Linked DNA regions of Homo sapiens: region 1 is linked to region 2. Evidence: fine-mapped expression QTL. A gene starts in region 2. The other region holds a variant in brackets. All regions are shown on one strand. Distances are from middle to middle. Region 1 overlaps ZNF697 (zinc finger protein 697). Region 2 holds the start of ZNF697 (zinc finger protein 697).

Evidence for each region.
Region 1: its variant is fine-mapped to the expression of ZNF697 in whole blood (INTERVAL, PIP 0.96).

Annotation. Positions count from the first base shown.
Region 1 is chr1:119,617,694-119,620,600 of GRCh38, reverse strand. It overlaps ZNF697 (zinc finger protein 697), which reads left to right. Exons shown (of 3, transcript NM_001080470.2): 3 at 1-1,224. Among named protein-coding and RNA genes, the nearest start is that of LINC00622, 20 kb to the right of the region's middle. The variant T/C (reference allele first, on the strand shown) is at 1,783.
Region 2 is chr1:119,646,838-119,649,744 of GRCh38, reverse strand. It overlaps ZNF697 (zinc finger protein 697), which reads left to right and starts at 1,479. Exons shown (of 3, transcript NM_001080470.2): 1 at 1,479-2,054. LOC124904389 (a long non-coding RNA gene) reads right to left here and starts at 1,429. Exons shown (of 2, transcript XR_007066506.1): 1 at 1,358-1,429; 2 at 769-1,021. RefSeq lists enhancers at 1,402-1,471, 643-1,483 and silencers at 1,542-1,601, 1,899-2,062.

The sequences.
Region 1 (2,907 bases), 29 kb after region 2:
CAAGCAAACAAGTGTCCGTTTTGAATTCTGATTTGTAATCTGAATACTAAACATATTAGACCCACCTGAAAATAATATAGCCAATTTCTAGGTAATCTTACTGCTTTGTGGGTTTCTTTCCATGTACATCTACCTCTTCCAGCTGTTTTAAGTTTTCTCAAGTCTGTGCCTATGAAATCTCATCCAACTTTTGATTATTCATGGATTGATTATCCGCTTTTTTTTTGCTTTTTTGCTGCCATTGCTATGCCTGGTCTCGTCTGCATCAAATATACTACATATCAGCAACTTTAGAGAATGGGTTCAACAGGGAGTGGAGAGTGAAGCTAATGTAAAATAGTTTAGTGGCAGTGGGAATCTTTGGACTTCATTTACCTCTCTCATTATTTCTATTACCATGGATAAAAAAGTCAGCTGCTACGTTGATATCCCTTCTATGAGCACATTCTTAGCAGAAGAAAACAATCCAACTACCAACACCCGACTCTATTGGTGCATTTAAAATGTGATTCCATTTTTTCTTACAATTCTTCAGGGAACTTACCTGCATTAAGTGAGGTTAAATGCATTCAGGAGGTTGTTTGTTTCTTCTATCTAGTTTTAGAATAATATTTCTTCGGCAAACCCTGCTAACTGCGGTTCACCCTTGAAAACGTTAATCTGAGGACTTTTTCCACCAACTCATTAATGATGGTGGAAGCAAGTGTATTATTTGTTTCCTGGAGAATTTGATGAAGAGCAGTCTTCCTCTGCTGCCCTTTACTAAGCAAAACCTGGAGCAATTTAAATAGGCTAAATGGTTTTGATTAAATCTTGAGCTCCGAGTTGGAAGGAGAAAATGAGAAGTTAACCCCTTGAGCCATGTGGTCTCTTTACAATCAAGAGACTGTACATATGTGAAAAAATACAAATTAAGGACCTGTGTTCATAGACAATCTAAACTGTGTTTCTGAAGTTTGTGCACATTTTTCTTCACTGTAATGTTATTTTACAGCTGTTTGTTAAAATAGTGAATAATTTAATGATCCTAAAAGTAACAGGTTTCGTGTGAGTGTGCTTGTATACGTGAGATTTGCCTTATTTTCAGGTTGTTTTATTTAACGATGGTTCCTTGGACAGCATTCTGGTGTTCAGCAACCAATATGGAATATTTGTCATTAAATCCATATCAGTCTTTTACCATGTCATTCTTCTTTGCCACACATTAAATGTCACTCAGCTCTATCTATGGAAGCTATGTTCTTGTAGAACAAGGGTTGACAAACTACTAAATCTGCCCTGCATATTTTTGTACATAAAGTTGCATTAGAATACAGTCATACCCATACAGGCACATTTGCATATTATCTGTGCTACTTCACCCTGAATTTGCCGTGAGTGGGCCTCTGCCCACATTCCAATTAGAAAAACTGTACCTGGTCAACCTGGAATTCTTGAGGTTTGATTAGTTTAAGCTACAGATTTTTTTAACCTTGGAGAGCTTTTTGGATTGTTTGCCTTTTAAATGAAGAGAGCAATTAATTGGAGTGAGGCCTAAGTTCCTGTAGTTTTATAGAAACTCCCCAGGTGATTTTAATGAGCAAACAGGGTTGAGAACTCTGTAGGACCAATTAGAGACCCCCCATTCTTTCTTGGGAATTACAGTAAGTATAATAATACATAAGGCTCAAATCCTCTCCTCCGCTGGGGGGTATGGAGGCAAAGGGCAGTGCAAGGTGCATCAGGCTTTGTCTGCTCCTGGTAGGCCTCCTGTCACACAACTGCTCCAAATAGTGAAGACAA[T/C]ATCATAAGTAAGAGCCAGGAAAAGTGCTTGTCTTGGCTGTCCATCAGATGACAATGGAATAGGTGTGGAAGGCTGCTGCTGGCCTTCACCGTCTTCACCACTCATAGTCAGCCTTCCTCCGCTCCTCTCAGATCTTTATTCCCCCAACTCAGCTCACAACAAAGCAAAACCCCAGGCATGACTCCTTTTCTCAGCTGCCCTTGGCAATCACATAATTTCCATCCTCTCTGCCCCTGGTGGGAGGGGAGGAGCACACCTGGCCAGCCTCCAGCATGAATTGCCTAGTGCTTGCTCCTCTGTCTCCCTATCACAGCTGCAAGTACCCTGTAGATTGTAGTTTTCTGCTGCTAGACTGGTTTCAAGGTCATCTCTGCTAACCCAAAGCACATTCCAATGGGTTTCAGTTTCTTGCTGCTCCTGTGGGATCCAGGGCACTGTTCACAATGCTGTCTGCATCCAGCTGGCGCCCTGTCTCATTCCAGCAGCTGGGAATGCTCAGCTTTGGAAGCCAATGAGGTGGGTGGCAAGGTGTTCCATATACCATGTTGCCCTGTGTTTTTAAGGAGGTTGAAAAAGGTGTCAGTGTACGTGCAATGTTTAAATTGGCATTCCCACACACGTATTTGAAGGATTTCCAACCTGAGTAAAGAACTGCCAGACGCCAGTTCCTGGAGACCAGGGATTCACTGGAAGCAGTTCCATGCATTCTTTTTATTCACTGAAGACACTCCACTGAGATGCTTTTCTGAAAGCATCAAGGGCTGAGGTAGGGAGTGGTTCTGCCTGGGTGTTCTGATACCATCTGTGTATGACTGGCCTTCCCCAGGCCCCAAGGCTGTGACTCATTAAGAGCAGAGACCCTGAGAAGTTCACCCCTCAGCTGAGTGGGCAAGTGCCAGGCATAGTGCTCAATGCTAGAGAGACAGATATGAGAGAGGTAGAGATGCTTACACATTCCAACACCATTTAAAGGTGAAGGTGAAGGCCTATTTTGTTTTCTGCCTGCCCAACCTGCTTGGGCGAATTATTTTGCCAACTATAAGTCTGACTTTAAGGATTTGGCCCCTGGGGCTGCAAGGGATGGGAGGTGGACCGGGGGGAACTTCATGTCAAGGCTTCACATG
Region 2 (2,907 bases):
TGCTGTGATTACAGGCATGAGCCACCAAGCCCAGAGACTTTTCTTTCTTTCTTTCTTTTTTTTTTTTGAGACGGAGTCTCACTTTGTTGCCCAGGCTGGAGTGCACTGACATGATCTCAGCTCACTGCAAGGTCTGCCTCCCAGGTTCATTCCAGTCTCCTGCCTCAGCCTCCCGAGTAGCTGGGACTACAGGTGCCCGCCACCACGCCCGGCTAATTTTTGGTGTTTTTTTTTTTAGTAGAGACGGGGTTTCACCGTATTAGCCAGGATGGTCTCCATCTCCTGACCTCGTAGTACGCCCGCCTCGGCCTCCCAAAGTGCTGGGATTACAGGCGTGAGCCACCGCGCCCGGCCTCCCAGAGACTTTTCTATCTGATTACTTTTCAAACACATTCTAGAGCATCCTAGAACTTGTCCTTTCCTAGTTCAGTTTATTACTTTCTGCTCATGCTCCAGGAGAGAATATAGCTTTTAGTCATTTAGTCTCTATGTGGTCCTTCCTTGATTTTCTAAGGGTCCTGAGTCTGTGGTCCCAGAAATAGACAAAAACATGTGCAGGGCATCATAGACTCTTGCTAGGCTGGAAGTAGAGTTCCTCTCTTGTAGCCAATGTCCTCTTCTCCTCACCCTTCCACTCCCGAAATACACACACTCAATATACAGTGGCCAGCACATCTGTTTTATGGGACCAAGAAGCTGAATCCTAAAGGTTAATGAAGGAAAGATACGCAGAAAGTCCAGCACTTTCCTAATTCAGCAGCACACAGGTTTTCACGTCTAATATTTAATTTACGTAATTTATTTTCAATCTCAATTTAATTGCTTTTCTTGAAAAGATGTTTGGGACAAGGTCAACAATGAGGGAGGAATGTCACCGGGTCGGGATCTGGAAACAATCAGCTCTGTATGGTTTTAAAGATGAAGCGCCAAGATCTTAAGGAACCTGAATTCCTGGTGAGCAATCAAGTTCTTTAATCGGCCCCCAGCAGGATGTCAACGGCGTAAAAGACAAAAAGAAAATCTATTTTAAAAGATAGATTTTGTGTTTTTAGATTAATTTTTAAAAAGCGAACCCACCACAAACTTCCCAGTTTTTAAAGAAAAGGCCTCTCCCACCGCAGAGCCCTCCCGAACCATGGGACAGCTCAGCGGCAGCGTCCCACCGGCTGCCCGCAACCGGTGCCGCGAGCTCGGAGTGCAGCGCTGGGATCTCGCGTGCTCCGGGACAGCGGGCTCCTTGAGCGCCGCGGGGCGGGGCGTGGGGCAAGACCCGCCGGCCGCTCCCTTCCCCACAGCGCTTAGAGAAGCAGCGAGCGCCTTTCCTCCTGTCCCGGAGTCCTAGCCTGGCCCGAGCTACCTCCAGGGCGCCCGCTGCTGCGGTGGCAGGAAGTCCCCGGGAACTACAAATCGAGGCATGCTGGGAACATTCTCCCGCTCCTCCCAGGAAATGTCCTTTGTCCAGCCCTACAGGAAGCCCCAGTGAGGAGTCAGCCGGGCAGCCAGCCAGCGAGCCAGCCAGCCAGCCAGCCAGCCAGCCAGCCAACCAGCCAGCCAGCGGGCCACCCAGCGGCCGCTGCAGCCGCCGCCGCCGCACAAGGGCAGACGCGCTGCGGTGCGGGGCTCGGGCCGGGGCGCTCGGTGCCCTAGCTCCTCGCCGCGCCAGCCGCCTCGCAGGTAGGAGCGTGGCTGTGGCTGGGCTCAACCGCCTCCCGGGGATGGGGCTGATCGGGACCAGACCCGACCGCTGCGGGGATGGGGTGTGTGTTCGAGTGCGGTGGCGGAACGGCTGGGCGAAGTTGTGCCTCGTAAAGTGGACCGTTGTCCGCTCCCCTGGGGCGCAGGGCCCCGGGCTTATGGGGTGCTCTCGCGCCCCCAAAGCCAGGACTGAGCTCCCTCAGGGGTATGTGGCGAGGGGCGGGGAGGAGGAGGCTGAGACTTGAGGGAGGAGACAGCGATGCAAGAGGGAATAGGACCGTCCCGCCGACCACCGAAGGGGGCATCAGAGACCCTCGGAGAAACCAAGCCCAGGGAGGAGCTTGGAAGGCAAGGAGAAGGTGAAGGGCTTTGTGTGCAGCTGTGGACCTTGACGGACTGCGCTCCCCTTGCCTTGTCTGTTCGTGCCTCCAGCCCCACTGGGGCTAAGGGAGGGTGGGGGGCTCCGAGAAGGGCAGGAGAGAGGCGGCAGGTCATCTTGGGTCCTAGTGAATGAAATGTGTGCCTCCCTTTTCCTCTCTTCTCCATTCTAGCCCACTCAAATGAGCGGCTTTGGGGCTGCCATCAGACCGGGCAAATGACACAATAAGGACGGGTGGGTGGAGAGATGGGCAGCAGCTCGCAGCCCAAGAGGGGTGGCCGTCTAGCCCCGGGAGGCATTCCAACCACACGTGTCCATGTAGGTAGGTGGTGGGGTGGTGGGCAAAGCTGGAACCTGCACCTCGCGGGGATGCCGAGGCTCAGGATTGTGCATGGAGGCACGGGTGAGGCGCGTGTTGGGAGGAGTGGGTGAGTAAAAGGTTGAGGGGGAGCAGCGACACAGAGGCGCTGAGTGTACCTTATGGCCAATGTACATTATGGCCATGCATCGGGAACTGACTACCACTTCCTCTGGGACTTTCCACGATTTTCCTTTTTCCTAACCGCCTCCCCCAACCGCCCCCGCCCTGCCTCCCCCACAGGAGTGAATCACCCACCCCTTACTACATGAACCCTGGGCTGAATTGAAGTTGGTGATGTATCCCTGTCCTTGTAGTGGGCATGTTTGTCCTTAACCTGTAGGATGACACCAATACTCCGCATCCCCTACTGCGTTACCCTCCTCCCTCAAGACTGAGCGTCTGGTAAATGCGGTTGGATAATGGCTAGCGAGTTAAATGTCTTTGAGTAGCTGTGGTGGATGAGTGGGCAACT